Linked DNA regions of Homo sapiens. The protein of the gene in region 3 purifies or fractionates together with the protein of the main gene of each other region. This does not show direct contact. Each region holds a gene or a part of one and is shown on either strand. Other genes may lie near its edges.

What was found. The genes of interacting proteins can lie anywhere in the genome.
Region 1: the proteins of DAZAP1 (region 3) and SNX3 fractionate together in Homo sapiens (co-fractionation; one large-scale study listed by BioGRID). This does not show direct contact.
Region 2: the proteins of DAZAP1 (region 3) and MPI fractionate together in Homo sapiens (co-fractionation; one large-scale study listed by BioGRID). This does not show direct contact.
Region 4: the proteins of DAZAP1 (region 3) and TKT fractionate together in Homo sapiens (co-fractionation; one large-scale study listed by BioGRID). This does not show direct contact.

The regions. Positions count from the first base shown.
Region 1 is NC_000006.12:108,215,718-108,219,540, forward strand, and holds part of SNX3 (sorting nexin-3), read right to left. Parts: intron 1-3,823. UniProt on the Homo sapiens protein: Phosphoinositide-binding protein required for multivesicular body formation. Specifically binds phosphatidylinositol 3-phosphate (PtdIns(P3)).
Region 2 is NC_000015.10:74,893,042-74,896,864, forward strand, and holds part of MPI (mannose-6-phosphate isomerase), read left to right. Parts: intron 1-96; coding exon 97-279; intron 280-3,110; coding exon 3,111-3,284; intron 3,285-3,823. UniProt on the Homo sapiens protein: Isomerase that catalyzes the interconversion of fructose-6-P and mannose-6-P and has a critical role in the supply of D-mannose derivatives required for many eukaryotic glycosylation reactions.
Region 3 is NC_000019.10:1,409,652-1,415,081, forward strand, and holds part of DAZAP1 (DAZ-associated protein 1), read left to right. Parts: coding exon of another isoform or gene 1-428; intron 429-5,430. UniProt on the Homo sapiens protein: RNA-binding protein, which may be required during spermatogenesis.
Region 4 is NC_000003.12:53,224,700-53,228,522, forward strand, and holds the end of TKT (transketolase), read right to left. Parts: intron 3,661-3,823; coding exon 3,577-3,660; intron 3,451-3,576; coding exon 3,357-3,450; intron 2,180-3,356; coding exon 2,057-2,179; intron 1,233-2,056; coding exon 1,057-1,232; 3' UTR 13-1,056; downstream 1-12. UniProt on the Homo sapiens protein: Catalyzes the transfer of a two-carbon ketol group from a ketose donor to an aldose acceptor, via a covalent intermediate with the cofactor thiamine pyrophosphate.

The DNA of each region.
Region 1 (3,823 bases), on a different chromosome or scaffold from region 3:
GAGGATTGCTTGAGGCCAGGAATTTGACACAAGCCTGGGCACATGTCTACAAAAATAAAAAAAACTTAGCTGGGTGTGGTGGTGTGAGCCTGTAGTCCCAGCTACTTAGGAGGCGGAAGTGGGATGATCACTTGAGTCCAGGAGTTCAGGACTGGAGTGAACTAAAATGTCGCTGCACTCCAGCCTAGGTGACAGCGAGACCCCGTCTTAAAAAAAAAATAAATTTTTAAAAATGTTATTCTGGAGCTCAAAATACTTGTTTTGATTAAATAGCACCTAGCTATTTCACAGGTTAGTTTGGTTTCTCTACCCTAGCACTACTGAGAATCAGATAAGTTTTGTACTGGGGGGCTTTCTTGTGCATTCTTTTCTTTCTTGAGATGGGGTCTTGCTCTGTCACCCAGGCTGGAGTTCCGTGGTGCGATCATGGCTCGCTGCAGCCTCCCCCAGACTCAGATGATCCTCCTGCATCAGCCTCCCAAATAGCCGGGACACTACAGGTACATAGCGTGCTACCACGCCTGGCTAATTTTTCTATTTTTTGTGGAGATGGTGTTTCACTGTGTTGGCCAGGCTGGCATTCTTTTCTTTAGCAGCATCCCTAGCCTCTGCCCACTAGACAACATAGCACCCCCAGCTGAGACAATAAAAAATGTCTCTAGACAGTGTCAAACGTCTCCTGGGGGATAAAACTGCCTTTGGTGGAAAACCATCAATCTATCATACTAATGTCTTCAAATCAAGACCCCTGTCTTAGGCTTCTTGTGGTTATTTTAAGAAAAACTGGGCATACAACAGAAGCTCAAATATCTGTTAAATGACCAACCACTTAGCTGGATCCTTACTTTAAACGCAAACAGAGAAATGTGTAAGCAAACAATCAGAACAAGGAGAAATATATATAGTAAACTGATACATATTTTTCTTTTCACCAATAATACAAATTACACATATTCAAAAAAATTAAAACTTTAAACCCTTGATATAGTTTCTACAACGAGTTGTTTATCCTCAAACAAAATTCAATAGGGTAAAAAAGGGAAAGAGCAACTCGACTTCATATAGATTAACAAAAAACAAAATAAAAACAAAAAAACCAAATGTCCAAATAAACTTTATAATCCCTTCCTAGATTTACTCTCCTCAGATGACCAATGATGAAGATATCTATGGATTTGTCTCCGTAAATTTATGCTAGCATTCTCAGATCTCACCCCCATGTTAACATCTGTTTAGTTGAGAGTTAAAATCTGCAGGGACCTTCTATAACTGAGAAACAAAGGAATGCTAACCATTACGTTCCAGTAGAATGGCTATCTGGTGGGCAGGGAAAAATATCTGTATCTACACAATTATTATTTAAAAAAAGAATTCTGGAACCACTGTGTTAAATAAATGACCACCATTAATTCAGGGTAGAATTTAGCATGAAACTTAAGAAAAGGATAGCTCAAGGATGTCAGTTAAAGAAAGAAGGAAAATGATAAAAAATGTAACAATATATATATAATTAAATATATATAAATTTCATATATAATGGGAATTTAAGAAAAGGATAGCTATGCATTATCCTCTGTAGAGATACACTCTTCCTAACATATTCAAACTAGTCATTCAAATGGATGGGGAGGTGGTAGGCAACAGGATTAATGATCTATAAAAATCATAAATGGCTCATCCAGCTAAGATTCTCTTCTACATCAAATTATTTTTGCTGAAGCAGTCTGAAAACACCTAACTGGAATTCTAACACCAGGTTGGGTGCGGTAGCTCACATATGTAATCCCAGCACTTCAGGAGGCCAAGGTGGGTGGATCACCTGAGGTCAGAAGTTCAAGACCAGCCTGGCCAACATGGTGAAACCCTGTGTCTACTAAAAATACAAAAAATTAGCCGGGCATGGTGGTGCATGCTTGTAACCCCTTTACTCAGGAGGCTGAGGAGAATTGCTTGAGCCTGGGAGGCAGAGATTGCAGTAAGCCGGGACTGCACCACGGTACTCCAGCCTGGGCGAGAGCTAGACACCGTCTCAAAAAAAAAAAAAAAAAATTCTAATACTAATTAAAAAGTCATGAATGCAAAGATATGTGCGTGCATGTGGGGTGAGAAATAGGAGAATATCTGGTGAGCACAATATATTGAAAGCTAAAGCAAACTAGAATAAAAGCTAAAAGATCTGACCATAATACATGTCAGCTAATTTCTAGCTTAGTTTAACAGATCTTAGTTAAAAGTACTAATATACCACAAAATAACTTGATTACATTGTTCTTTGCAATACTGTAATACGAGTAAAACTTTCACATGGATTTAACTCTCAATATATTTAACTGGTCTAATGTTAAATGTGAAGTATTGTGCTTCAAAGGACAACATCAAGAAAGTGAAAAACAACCCAGAGACTGGGAGATATGTGCAAATTATGTATCTGATAGGGAACTCTAAGAGTCTTATATATTCTCGACATAACTCTATAATAAAAAGATGAACCCATTGAAAAAGGCAAAAGCTCTCAATAAAGATGTCTCCAAAGAAGATACATAAATGACCAGTAAGTATATGAAAAGAAAATCAACATTAGTGGCCATTAGAGAAATAAAAATCAAAACCACAATGCAATACCCCTTCACAAACAGTAGGATAGCTATAATAAAGAAGACAGGCAATTGGTAAGGATGTGGAGAAAAGTAGAACCTCACATTGCTGGTAAGAATGTAAAATTACACAGCTGCTTTGGAAAAACGGTCTGCCAATTCCTCAAAAGGTTAAAAAGAGTTATGACCCAGCAATGTACTGGTAGGTATATACTGAAAAGAAATGAAAACACATGCAGACAGAAACCTATGCACAAATGTTCACAGCAGCACTACCAATAACAGCCAAAAAGTAGAACAAAATGTCCACCAAATAAGTGTATAAATAAGATGTGGTATAAGCATACAATAGGATATTATTTAGGAATAAAAAGAAATGAAGTAATTGATGCATGTTAGAAAAGCATGAACTGTGAAAACATGTTAAGTGAAAGAAGCCAGACACAAAAGATCACATATTGTGGGCTTCCATTTACATATGCCCAGAATGGGCAAATCCACAGAGAAAGGAGACTAGCAGGTGGTTGCCATAGGCTGAGTGAGGAAGGGTTGGGGAGAAATCAGTGGTGTCTACTAATGGGGACAGGGTTTCTTTTATTGGGTGATAAAAATGCTCTAAAATTGACTAGTGCTCTAAAATAGTGATGGTTGCACAACTCTGTGAACATATTAAAAACCAGTGAATTATACACTTTAAATGGGTGAATTGCATGGTATGTGAATTATATCTCAATAAAGCTGTTACTAAAAACAAAAGCGGTCGGGCGGGGTGGCTCACGCCTGTAATCCCAGCACTTCGGGAGGCCAAGGCGGGCGGATCACAAGGCCAGGAGATCGAGACCGTCTTGCTAACACGGTGAAACCCCGTCTCTACTAAAAATTTTTAAAAAATGAATAAATAAATTTACAAAAAAAAGCAAAATATACACTCAGCAAACGTTTATTAAACATTTCCAGTGTGCCACATGGTATGTCAAGCAAAGCCCAAAGCCTATGTATCAAGACACTTCTCAGCTAGGTGTGGTGGCTCATGCCTGTAATCCCAGCACTTTGGGAGGCCAAGGCAGGAGGATTACTTGAGGCCAGGAATTCAAGACCAGCCTGGGCAACATAGTGAAGCCTCATCCTTACAAAAAATTTTTTAAAATTAGCTGGACATGGTGGCTCATGCCTGTAGTCCCAGCTACTTGGGAGGCTGAGGCAGGAAAATCACTTGAGACCAGGAGTTG
Region 2 (3,823 bases), on a different chromosome or scaffold from region 3:
TTAGGGCTGGGATGGAAAGGTGTCCTCCAACTCCCCACTTGTGTGGGTTCCATCTTACCATTCCTGATATGGGCCCTGGGCCTTGCCTTCCTGTAGAGGTGCCTGAGTTTCAGTTCCTGATTGGAGATGAGGCAGCAACACACCTGAAGCAGACCATGAGCCATGACTCCCAGGCTGTGGCCTCCTCTCTGCAGAGCTGTTTCTCCCACCTGATGAAGAGTGAGAAGAAGGTGGTGGTGGAACAGCTCAACCTGTTGGTGAAGCGGATCTCCCAGCAAGGTGGACACAGTTATATTCCTGGTTGGGTGCAATGCTCTGGCCTGGGCTTCCCAGCAGACACCAGACTCTGGGGACAGTTCTCAACCCCCTTGCCCAAGTGGAACACTAAAAGGGGCCCCACTTAGATGACCTGTTGGCAACTTAGCATTGCTTGCCTAGTCTTTGTGGAGCAGGGCCCTTCTTAGTTGAGTGCTGCTTCCCAACTGGTCATCTTCTCCAGATGGTTGGAGGCAGACTGGCATAGAGGACTCTTAGGATGCCTTCCACCTAGGCATTCTGAGATTTTCCCTAGCCCTGCAGCTGCCCTCCATGGATGGACTTGTATCTCGGGGCTAAAGAGGCAGGAAGGGGACACGAGCATCCTCCCTCTCCTGGAAAGGACTGATGCCTCCAGCACTCAGTCATTTGATCTTTCCTTTACCTTCTGTGTGCCCAACCTTGTGCTAAGAAGAGTTCAGGAAATGACTGTGATGGGTGTGGTCACTGTCACCCTAAAGGTGGGGAGTCAACACAAGCAGTAAGAAACCCAAAACAGAACAGACTCCCAGCAATGAGCTTATGTGGTGCAGGCGATGAGGTCTCAGCTTCTTAGCCTGGCAGCCACAACCCCTTCTCTAGGTGGCCCAGAGCTCTCTTTTTATTTTACCTCTACAGGTTTCCCATTACCTTTGAGCCTTAGGGCATTATTTATTTGACCCAAGCATATTTTTTTCTGTTCAGTGTGTGTGTGTGTGTGTGTGTGTGTGTGTGTGTGTGTGTGTGTGTGTGTGTGTGTGTGTGTGTGTGTGGTCTCTTTCTGTTGCCCCAGGCTGGAGTGCAGTGGTGCGATCTTGGCTCACTGCAGCCTCTGCCTCCCGGGTTCAAGCAATTCTCCTGCTTCAGCCTCCTGAGTAGCTGGGATTACAGGCATGTGCCACCACATCTGGTTAAGTTTTTATATTTTAGTAGAGACGGAGTTTCACCATGTTGCCTAGGCGGGTCTCGAACTCCTGAGCTCAGGCAATTCACCTGCCTCAGCCTCCCAAAGTGCTAGGATTACAGGTGTGAGCCACCACGCCAGGCCCCTTGCCTCACTTTAAAGAAGCCTGGCTGGGCACGGTGGCTCACACCTGTAATCCTAACACTTTGGGAGGTTGAGGCGGCCGTATCACTTGAGGTCAGGAATTCAAGACCAGCCTGGCCAACATGGTGGAACCCCATCTCTACTAAAGATACAAAAATTAGCCAGGCGAGGCAGAGGTTGTGGTGAGCCTAGATCATGCCACTGCACTTCAGCCGGGGCAATAGAGTGAGACTCTGTCTCAAAAAAAAAAAAAAAATGCTGGGCATGGTGGTGTGTGCCTGTAATCCCAGCTACTCAGGAGGCTGAGGCGCAAGAATCACTTGAACCCAGGAGGTGGAGGTTGCAGTGAGTCTAGATTGCACCACTGCACTTCAGCCTGGGAGACAGAGCAAGACTCCGATTCGGAAAAAAAAAAAAGAAAAAGAAAAAGAAAAAAAATTTAAAAATTAAAGAAGTCCACCCTTGCCACTCTACCCAGGCTGAGCTCATTTTCCCTTGTCGTTTCCAGGACACATTTTGGCCCTCAGCGCATTCTGCCTCATGCTCTCTGGAGCAGACCGAGAGAGATTCTCTGAGACATAGAACTTTCTTTTTTTTTTTTGAGACGGAGTCTCGCTGTGTCACCCAGGCTGGAGTGCAGTGGTGCAATCTCGATCACTGCAACCTCCGCCTCCCGGGTTCAAGCGATTCTCCTGTCTCAGCCTCCCGAGTAGCTGGGATTACAGGCACGTGCCACCACACCTGGCTTTTTTTTTTTTTTTTTTTGTATTTTTAGTAGAGATGGGGTTTCACCATGTTGGTCAAACTGGTCTCGAACTCCTGACCTCGTGATCCGCCTGCCTTGGCCTCCCAAAGTCCTGAGATGACAGGTGTGAGCCACCGCGCCCAGCTGAGACACAGAACTTTCAGTGCTAAAAACTAGAAAGTCGCCGGGTGCGGTGGCTCACACCTGTATTCCCAGCACTTTGGGAGGCCTAGGTGGGAGGATCCCTTGAGTTCAGGAGTTCGAGACCAGCCTGGGCAATATAGCGACCCCCTCTCTCTGCAAATAATAAAAAACTTAGCCGGGCATGGTGGCATGCACGTGTGGTTCTCGCTACTCAGGAGGCTGAGGTAGGAGGATTGCTTGGTCCTGGACAGTTGAGGCTGCAGTGAGGTATGATCGTGCCACTGCACTCCAGCCTGGGTGACAGCGAGACCCCGTCTCAAAAAAAAAAAAGGGAAAGCTCGGGCATGTTGGTTACCCTTCATGAAACTCTTTTGCGTTATCTCCCTAGATTTTGAGCTCCAAGGGCAGTGGTTCTCATACAGGGGACATTTGGCTGTTGTCTGGAGCCATTTTTTGATTGTCAAAACCCAGATAGGGGTTGCTAGTGGCATCTTGTGGGTGGAGGCCAGGGAAGCTGCTACACATCCATCAGTACACAGGACAGCCCCCACAATAAAGAATTACCTAGCCCAAATGTCAGTAGCGCCAAGGCTGAGAAATCCCATCCTGAAAGGACCATACTCTAGCTCTTTTAGTGGCTAGTATAGTCCTGGGCATATGAATAGTCAAGATATGATGAAAGATGGTATTTGTATGGACTGGAGTATCAAGCAAGGCTCGACCCCCAAAGGGCTGGAGGCGTGGCCAGAAGGACAGGGCCACTTTGGCTTCTGGATTCCTGTGGCAGGGACCTTTTCCTAGGACTCCCTGGCCAATGTGGGGCTATGAACAGCACTGAGTATCCCCCTAAGTGACCTTGGGGTGCTCTGTGACCCTCAGCGGCTGCCGGAAACAACATGGAGGACATCTTTGGGGAGCTTTTGCTACAGCTGCACCAGCAGTACCCAGGTGATATCGGCTGCTTTGCCATCTACTTCCTGAACCTGCTTACCCTGAAGCCTGGGGAGGCCATGTTTCTGGAGGCCAACGTACCCCATGCCTACCTGAAAGGAGGTGAGCCACATTTCAGCAGTGAGCCCCACTGCCATCCCTGCTGGGCCCTGTTTCCCTATCTGGACAAAGGAAGGAGAAGGGTGGTCAAGGAGACCCCCAAGGACCTTGCAGCTCTGACCTCTGAGGGTTCCTGGGCTCAGCAAGCAACAGCTGGTAGGGATGATGAATGCATTTAGCATTGAACACGCCTTGAATCCTGACACCAACCCTGTGATGCCATGCTACTCTGATTTTAAGTCCTGCCAGTCAGTGTGGGAACCACAATTTGAACGCAGGCTATATTGGATCAAAGCTGTTGTTCTGTCACAGCCTTTGTATGTCTGTCCTACCTACCAGGGATTTTTACACTAAAATATGCATGTTGCCATGGAAGGATGCCACCTTTCGACTGTTGGCTGCTTATCCACACATGCCTCATGCACAGGATTCTGGGGTAGAAGTGGGAGACTACAGAGTTGGGGCTCCCCAACCCCCAGGGGTTAACATGACTCCCCTCTGACAATAATGGGTGACCTGTCACCTGTTTTTGGTATTTGATA
Region 3 (5,430 bases):
TCCACGGTCTGCTCTGATCTTGCTGTGTGGAGTTGTTGTGTGCGTGAAATGCTTGTGACCCTGCGAAGCGCCCTCCTGGCAAGTCCCCTGCAGGTGCGGTGGGTGCCATGCAGGAGGGTGCTGAGCTTGGATGGAAGCAGGCCCTCTCTGCGGCAGATGGCGGCTCTCAGGACGCCATGGGTCTGCGGTGTCCCTTACCCACTGGGGGGGCTCGGCAGCCTGAGGAGCTCCCTCTTCCTGATGCAGAGCCCTCACTGCTCACTGCCATGGAGGAGGCAGGAGATCCCGCCGGACCCCGCTTGGAGGGCTGGGCCTGGAGCATGCATGGGTGCGGGGTCAACGCCTCAGGAGACTTGGAGCTTGGGAGCCCCCTGTTCTGGGACACTTGTGGCCGTCCAGCTGCTGCCCTGGGAATCCACACCTGGAAGGTGGGTTAGGGAGCCATCCTTGGGGGAAGCTCTGCTTTTGAGTCTGAGAAGTCGTCCCAAGTTTTGAGGGTCCCTGTGCTGGCTTAGAAGTCCATGTAAAGCTTGATGGGGGATGAAAGTCAGCTGAGGCCTGCCGGTGATAACGGATGCCTTACACACACCGACTTCCAGTCAGCTTGAGGGGGGCTTCATGCAGGAGGAAGCGCATACGTGTGGTGGGGTGTGGGGAGTCCCTCTCTGGATCCTGGTGGGTTTGGCACGCGGACCCTACATGGTGGATGTGATGGACAGTGTCCTCCTTTGGGAGCGGGGCCTGTCCTGGTCCTCTTGTGAAGGGTGGGGGACAGGCACTGACCTGTCAGGAGGGTTAGAGGGTTGGCACCAGCAGGTGGCCTGGAGCGCTCAGAGCACGCGCGATCAGGAAGGCCCGAGTCTCCAGTGTGCCCTCCCTGGCCTTGTGAAGTCATCTTAAAGTCTGGCTTGAGCGCCTCTGACTTGGATTCTGGGAAGCTGACACAGCGCGGCCGGGGTCGCCACATCCTGTTGAGTAGCCGCTGGGTGCTAGGCGCCTGGGTGGTAGACCAGGTGTCAGGGATAGGGCCCATGCCTGGCCTACTGGGGAGAGGACAGAGGCTCAGAGGGGTCACCTCGAGCGCCCAGGCCATTGTGTTCTGCTGGCTTCCAAGGCAGCACACGGTCATGGAACTGGAGAGAGAGGTTTATGGAAGATTTTATCTGGTACACTGGGGAATGGTAAGACAGGGACACCTGGAAATATTGTAGGAAAGTCACAGAGGGAGGAAGGACTCAGCGGAGAGAGGAGAAAGCCGCCTCTGGGCAGCTTCGAGGATACCCAGGACTGTGGCCGGGGGCCATGCAGCTCAGAGCCAGGCCCATGGCAGGTCTCTGGGTTTATTGGGTGGCTGTGGAAGGAGACATCCTGAGTGGGGCTCCTGGCTGGGCCCCTAGAGGCCGTGACTACTTGTACCTGTGCAGAGTGAGCACAAGGCACCTGGCAAGATTGTTGGTCAGGCCAGAGAGGGCCGTGATCTGGGGGAGGCTGTTGCAGTGCGGGGAGTGATAGGGAACCTCATGGGGCCGTGCCGGCCTTTCTGGGGCTCTCTTGGTGCATTTGGAGTTATTCCGAGGCAGGTCTCCTGGGCTCTGTCAGCACTCTGGCCTGGATCACTCTGGGGCACCGTGGGCACTGCAGGGTGCTGGGCAGCACCTTTGGCCTCCATTCACTCCGGGTCAGGAGTACCCCCAGTCGTGACAACCACAAATGTTCCCAGACATCACCCAGTGTCCTGCTGGGGGGAGAGCCACTGTCTGGGAGCATCTGTGCTTTTGGCCTGGTTGCCCCTGCGCTGGGGGCCGCTGCTCCTTGTGGTTTATGGCTTGTCCTGTGTCGGCTCCTTTGATTCCTGTGAATGGGCCTTGAGGGTGGATGTGCTCCTGACTGGCTCGCCTTGGCTCCAATGGTCTGGAGCAGGCCGGTGTCTAGAAAGGCAGCAGCATGGACCCTGGCGCTTGCCCTTCACACAGCAGCTCCCCAGTGGCCCAGAGCTAGCAGCAGCGCGCAGCGTGCCCAGCTGTGCTTGTAGCCTTGGCTCTAACCCTTGGCTTTGCCAGAGAGACTGAGGCACAGAGGAGTTGAGGGATGGGCCCGGGGTCACCCCAGGGGGTGGAAGATCCGGAGCTGGGAGTCCACACTCCTCCACTGCCCGCCCCGCACAGAGGGCGCTCCTGGTCAGGCGGCTATGTTCATGGTGCGACCCGTCAATCTGAGGTTGTGCTGTCTTCTGTGAACTGAGGCCTTTTCCCATCCAGGCCTGGTCCCCGTGACACCATGTCATGATGTCAGAATCCCTGAGAGCTGTGACAGGGCTTTTGGCAGAGGCCAGTCATTCGACAGATGCTTATAGGCTGAGCTTCCAGCTTGGCTCCAGGCGTTGCCAAGGAGAACACTGGTCCGCCTGGGAGGGCGGGGCTGGCAGGGAGAGGATGAGGGTGACCACAGTTAGCACCCAGGATGTGGGCATTCAGGGGCTCCTTCAGCACACAGCAGCGCGTTCCAGTTCACGGACCGCTCCTGTGTTCTGTGGACCCCACACCCTGCAGGCGTGGGCTGGAGGGGGGGCATCTGACCCTGCTGGGGAGAGGGAGTCCAGGCTATGGAGGGGCGGGCTGGGCTCACTGGCCTGAGGCAGTGGGTGAAGTGGTCCTGGTTTCCCACCTGGTCTTAGGGGCAGGAAAGTCCCTAGAGGCTCTTCCTGATGCTCTGGAAGAAGAGAAGGGTTCCCCACACATCAGCCGCCACTGGGCCTGGACTTCTGCCTCTTGAGATTGTGCACGGAGCTGAGTGTGACTGGCGGAGCCCAGAGCCAGGTGGGGTCTGTGGGGAGGCAGGCTCCTCCTGGCTTGGTCCCCCGGCCCAGCAGGAAGGGAAAGGTCGCCTGCCAACTGCCCCCATTGAGGCTGCTGGCCCCGAATGGCCGGGCTGGCCGCCGGTTTTTGAAGCCCACTCTGGTGCTGCCAGGAGGTCAGGGCTCTTTGTGGTCAGCCTAGGCCAGAGGAAGCCTCTGCAGATGGACTTTACGCATAAATACCGCACAGGCACCCGAATGGCACGCAGCAAGCGAGGTTGCCATCCAAAACGGCTTTTGCTTTAACAGGCAGAAGAGGGTGGCTGCGCCGGCCACCGTGGATTGAGCACCTGCCAGGTGTCGAGCTGCAGGCCCTGGGTGCCAGGCTTGCAGATCCTGGGAGATGTTCATCATGACCTTTGATGGGCAGACTGCACGCTGGACTCCAGGTTGCAAGGGAAGAAGTGGAGCTCGTCCCACGCCTCCCCCACTAATGAGAACACCCCTTTTGGGTTTGTGGGGTGTGAGGTCTGTAGGAGCCACGACTTCCAGTGTCGGAGATGCCGTCAGCTGGGTGATGACTCTCCCACCCAGCGGGCCCCTCAGAGGCAGGGTGCAGGAGCCACATTGCTCACCGACCCCTTCATCTGCGTAGGCCAGTGTTGCCTTGCCCCGTTAACGTCCTCAGTCCACACGCCGCCAGCCAAGGTGCAGGCTGAGCAAGCCTGGAGCTGAGGACAAGCGGACCGCCAGCCCCGTAGCAAGCCCACGAGAGCCAGCAGCTCCTCCTTTTGGCCTCTGCCCGCGCCCGGCTTCCTGGACTCCGACGTTTACTTGTGTGAGAGTTGGTTCTGCTGCCTGGGCAGTTGATGGACAGTGTCTGGGAGGTGCCTGCCCAGGGCTCCGCATGTTTCTGATGTGCCGGCTTCTCACTCACGACCTGGTGAGGTTGGCAGCCAGGAGCTTTCTTATTTTATTGATTAAAACATCCTGAGATTCAGAAGTAGGGACTTTGTGCCAGGGCCCTGGAGGCAGTCCCTGCCACTGAAGAGATGACCCTGCTTTCCGGGACTTCCCGGAGGCTTCTGTCTGTAGACCAGGGAGAAGGTGTTCGCCGGTGGCTCCTGAGTGGTAGTAAAAGACACATGGACACAGGAAGCTTTAGCGTTAGAAGCTGCTCTCAAATATCTCAACAGAAACACACAGTGTGGCCGCGCGCGGTGCCTCACGCCTGTCATCCTAGCACTTTGGGAGGCCGAGGCGGGCGGGTCACCTGCGGTGGGGAGCTCCAGACACAGCTATGTGAAACGAAAGCTATCTGTTGCTGTCTCAGATTCCATAAGGACTGAGACTTGTTTCAAAAGAAACTGAAATTCTGTCTTGTTCTCAGTAATGAAAGTCTTTTATACCATAATTGTATATATAACTTCTGACTTACAGGAAAATTACAAAAATTCCCATATCCTCTTGGCCCTGCCAGACTCACCATTGGCTGACATTTTACCCTTTGGCACGTGGTGCCTCTTGCCCCACCCCCAGTGAACTGTGTGTGTGTGTGTGTGTGTGTGTGTGTGTGTGTGTGTGTGTTTAGATGGACCCTCACTCTGTCGCCCAGGCTGGAGTGCAGTGGCTTGATCTTGGCTCAGTGCAACCTCCGCCTCCCGGGTTCAAGCAGTACACCTCGAGCTCAGCCTCCCGAGTGGCTAGGATTACAGGTGCGCACCACCGAGCCCAGCTAATTTTTGTATTTTTAGTAGAGATGGGGTTTTGCCATGTTGGCCAGGCTGGTCTCGAACTCCTGACCTCAGGTGATCCGCCCACCTCAGCCTTGCAAAGTGCTGGGATTACAGGCGTGAGCCAGTGCACCCATCCCCACTGTGTGTGTTTCTACTGAAATATTTGAGAGTAGCTGGAGACCGATGCAGTCCCCTTTATGTGTACACTGAGATATCTATTGTTTCCCAAGAACAATGACATTCTCTCACATGAACACAGCACAGTGATCAAAATTGAGAAAGTGGCCGGGCGCAGCTACTCACGCCTGTCATCCCAGCACTTTGAGAGGCCGAGGCTGGTGGATCACGAGGTCAAGAGATTGAGACCATCCTGGCCAATATGGTGAAACCCCGTCTCTACTAAAAATACAAAAATTAGCTGGCGGGCGCCTGTAGTCCCAGCTACTCGGGAGGCTGAGGCAGGAGAATCGCTTGAACCCGGGAGGCGGAGGTTGCAGTGAGCTGAGATCGCGCCACTACACTCCAGCCTGGGCAACACAGCGAGACAATTTTTCAAAAAAAAATTGAGAAAGTATTTATTATTTTTTAAAATTGTATTTGAGTATTTTTTATTTTTTTAATTTTATTTAAGAGTATTTTTTATTTTTTTTTTAATTTTATTTAAGAGATGAGATCTCTGTCACCCCTGCTGGAGTGCAGTGACACAATCACGGCTCACTGCAGCCTCGACCTTGACTCAAACGATCCTTCTGCCTCAGCCTCCCAAGTAGCTGGGACTACAGGTGCCTGCCACCACCTGGAGTCTCGTTACGTTGCCCAGGCTGGTCTTGAACTCCTGGCCTCCCGTAATGCTGTGATTATAGGCGTGATCTGCGCCCAGCTGAGAAAGACAGTACTGAT
Region 4 (3,823 bases), on a different chromosome or scaffold from region 3:
AATTGCCTGACCTTGGCTTTGACAGGTTTATTCTCTCCAGACGGTCAGGAGGACAGGTGGACGTGTCCACAAATGTGTCTCATCCTCGCAACAGCTCTGAGGATTTCCTGGGGACTCCACCAGTGGCCGGGGCACCCAGCCCTCCTCCCCCAGCACTAGTTTGTTCTTGGCCAGTATAAGGTTTTGCACAGTTGACCTTATAAGCAGGGCTGACCCCAGCTGAGCCCGAGCAGCAGGGGGAGAAATCCACTGTGGTCAGCAGTGTGAGGGCAGTCACCTAGGAACAGCAGAGCAGGTCGGGGCTGGAGCTTGGGACTGCAGAATTCTGTGTGACATCAGAAGCTCCTGGGCCAGTTGTCACATGGAGTCCCAGGCCCCATTGGCAAGACCCAGAAATCTGCATTTTAACAAGTTGAGGGGGACAGTTCCACACTTGGGATTGAGGACCTCTCATGCCATCCTGAGGGTCCCTTTTCCCCCAGGACGAAGGCTGCCCTGTCTCTGCTTCTCTGAGATGCCTAGTTAAAAGGATATGACAAGGACGAGGGACAACAAGCAAGTGAACCTCCCTATCCCAGGAGACCTGACTGCAAGGCTGTGGGGACTTGGGGGAGGTGGGGCGGCCCTGAGAGTGCCTGGTCAGCTTCCAGACTGAGGCAGTTCCCCAGCCCGCTCAGGGCCAGGTGGACTGAGGTCACAATGAGGGATGTAGGTCTCAGCCTCTCAGCTAGAAGGCAGGTTGCAGTCAAATGTCACCTGGTGATGAATGGGAGGCAGCGATAGTTCTGGAGGTTGAGGGCAGTTGCAGGTGATTCCAAGGGGACTTGGGACACCCAGGTCCTGGCCCAGGACCAAGGACACCAGCCTCCCTAGCGCACCCTCCACGCTTCTTCCCCAGAACCTGCACTGGCTGCAAACACATCAAAAAAGAAAACATTTCAGGGCCAATTCATTTTTCTCAAAACATATATTTACCCCTCCTCTCAGTACATCTTTGAGCACCTTTCCCAGAATCTCAGGAATGTATAGACCCCCGCCCCACACTTCATACCCGCCCTAGGCCTTGGTGATGAGGCCCCTCACAGCTTGTGCAATGGCATCCCTGTCGATACCAAACATCTTCAGCAGCTCAGCCGGCTTCCCACTTCTTGGTACCCGGTTAACTGCCAGGTGGGTGACAGTGATGCCAGGCTCGCCCACTACTGCACTGGACACAGCCTCACCAATGCCACCTAGAAATGAAAGGAGGGGAGTCAGAAGACGAGGCCTCAGGGTGAGCAGTGGTGGGCCCAGCCCTCTGTCAGCCTTAGTCAAGGATGGAGGAGGCTGCATATGCACTGCCTTTCTCCACCTGTAGCCATGAGCCCATCACATAACTCATTGATTTTTTTTATTTTAAAGAGACAGACAGGTATCACCATGTTGCCCAGGCTGGTCTCCCAACTCCTGAGCTCAAGAAATCCGCTGTCCTCAGCCTCCCAAAGTGCTGGGATTGCAGGTGTGAGCCACCATGCACGGCCCAGAACTATTTTTATAAGCCCAAATATGGCCTCTAAATGTTTGTTTCAAACACCATTGTTGGTGACCAGCCAGCCACTGTCCATAGTCCAATTATCTACATTTGACCCCAGAGTCAAAGCCCATCTCTCCCACTGGGGCCTCCTACTTAGAGAGGCTGGTGTGTACTTAGGGAGCCTGCTGTGTGAAGGACTCACAAATACCAGAAATTCTGCATTGCTTCCCAAGCTGCACCATAGCTTCCACCCTACACTACCTCAGGGACGCCACCATCCACCATTTAGCAGCGAGGTTGGAATCCTCACCAGCTTCCTGGGCAGCAGGAGCTCCACAGAGCTCATCAGCAGCTGTGAGTTAGCTAGGTCCCCAGGCCAAGCCTGAGGCCTTTTAAGAGACCACGTCCCAGCTGCTCTGAGGGACAGCTCTGGGTGTTCTGGGCCACAGCTGCCCTCCTGGGGCTCAGATAGAAGAGGCACGTCCAACGCTCGGCTCTCTGGCCCTGTCCCTTGCCCAGCCTGCCTGCCCCAGGCCTCCTTACCTTCATAATAATGGTCCTCCACGGTGAGGATCCTGCCCTTGGTGGCACGAGCGCTGTCGAGAATGAGTTTTCTGTCCAGGGGCTTGATGGTGAAGGGGTCCAGCACGCGGATGTTGATCTTTTCTGTGAGGGAGAGCACACGGCGTGGCTGAGGGGAGGGCTGGGCACCACTATCTGCCCTGGTGGGGGCCTGGTGGGACATCCTGAGGGCTGCGTGTAGCTAAGAGCTCAGCCTGCGGGCCTGTCCCTGTCCCAGGGAGAACCACTTGCCACCTCGTTCCCATGGCTGAGCTCATGCTTGCCAACCCCTTGCACTGGGGCATCTGGTCCAGCTGTGTTGCCCGCAGTATCCAAGAACCCAGAGCGGAGCGTGCAGGCCCTGAGCGCCTTCCCTCATCCTCCCACAACCTTGAAGACAAAGGGAATGCGAGAGAAAACACCCCAGGTGTCTGGCCTGATGGAAGGTGAGGCTTGATGTGGTGACGTTGGGGAGCTGCAGCCCGCAGAGTGATCAGAGGCCCACGTGCGGCCCCAGCAGCAGAGGCACCTTCTCAGAAGGACAAACCCACGCTTGCCAGGCCCTGCTTAAAGCTCACCCCCCTGGGTCTCCCCCTGCCTGGGGATGGACTCCTCTGGCTCCTCCAGCCCCATCTTGCTCCTGCCTGACCCTCCTCCGGCCTCCCTTCACTCTCCTCTCTGCTAATCAATTCCTACCCACTCTGAAGCCACTTTCTGGAAGATGCCACACCTGCCCCCTCTTTCGTGCTAAAACATGACATCTGCTGTGTGATTCTATTGCAGGAGAGGCCAATGCCTGTCTCCCCTACAAACCACTAGCCAACACTGTGAGCTCGCAGTAATAATAATAGAATACCAAGTCACATGCATGTAACCCTCAGGAGAGCTCTGAGGGCAAGGGGCTAGTATCTCCATTTTACAGATAGGAAAACAGGCATGGTGACAGTGAATAACTTACTTCCTTAACTAGTGCCTGGCTGAGTGATTCCAGCCCAGCTGGCAGGCTCCAGGCCACTGATCTGGCCACCATGCTGGGGGGGTCTCGACTTTAGAGTCATAGGGTAGGGACTGTGGGCACTGCAGCCCCAGGACTTAGCAACATGCCAGACAGAACAAGTGCTCAAAGGATGGCTATAATTGCTATCATTATTTAATGAAATGAAATGCTTTCTCTCTAGCTGTGAGCTCTTCAAGAAAGAACAGAAAGAACGAAAGAAAGAACCCCAAGACCTAGCATGCAGTGGCCGCTCAGTTGATGACTTTGGAGGCCCCTTCTCCTCACCTTTCTTCAGCAGTTCGGCAGCGGCCAAGGCCTCGTGCAGGGTCACCCCAGCCCCGATAACGGTCACCTGGTCATCCTTGCTCTTCAGGACCACCTGGGGGTGACACAGAGGGTGAGTAAGGCTCAGGGCCCTGGGGCAGGGTGTGCCCTGACTGCTGGGAGTCACAGCAGGGAGGGTCCAGGCAGCTCTGTGGGCTCCTGGGGCATGCGAGGCACTGACCTTGGCTTGTCCGACCTGGAAGTCCTCATTGTTGTTATAGATGATGGCATTTTCTGGGCGGCTGGTCCGGATGAAGCAGATACCCTGAGACCGAAACAGATAAACTGAGGATACAGGATGTGGCACACCCAACCTCAGAGACGAGGTCTTTCTAGAGAGGCCATCCCTTCCCATGGGAGCGTTAGTTACTGCATCCTGGCTACTCCAGCAGGGAAAAGGGCCTTGCTTGCCCTCTGCCGCCCGCACC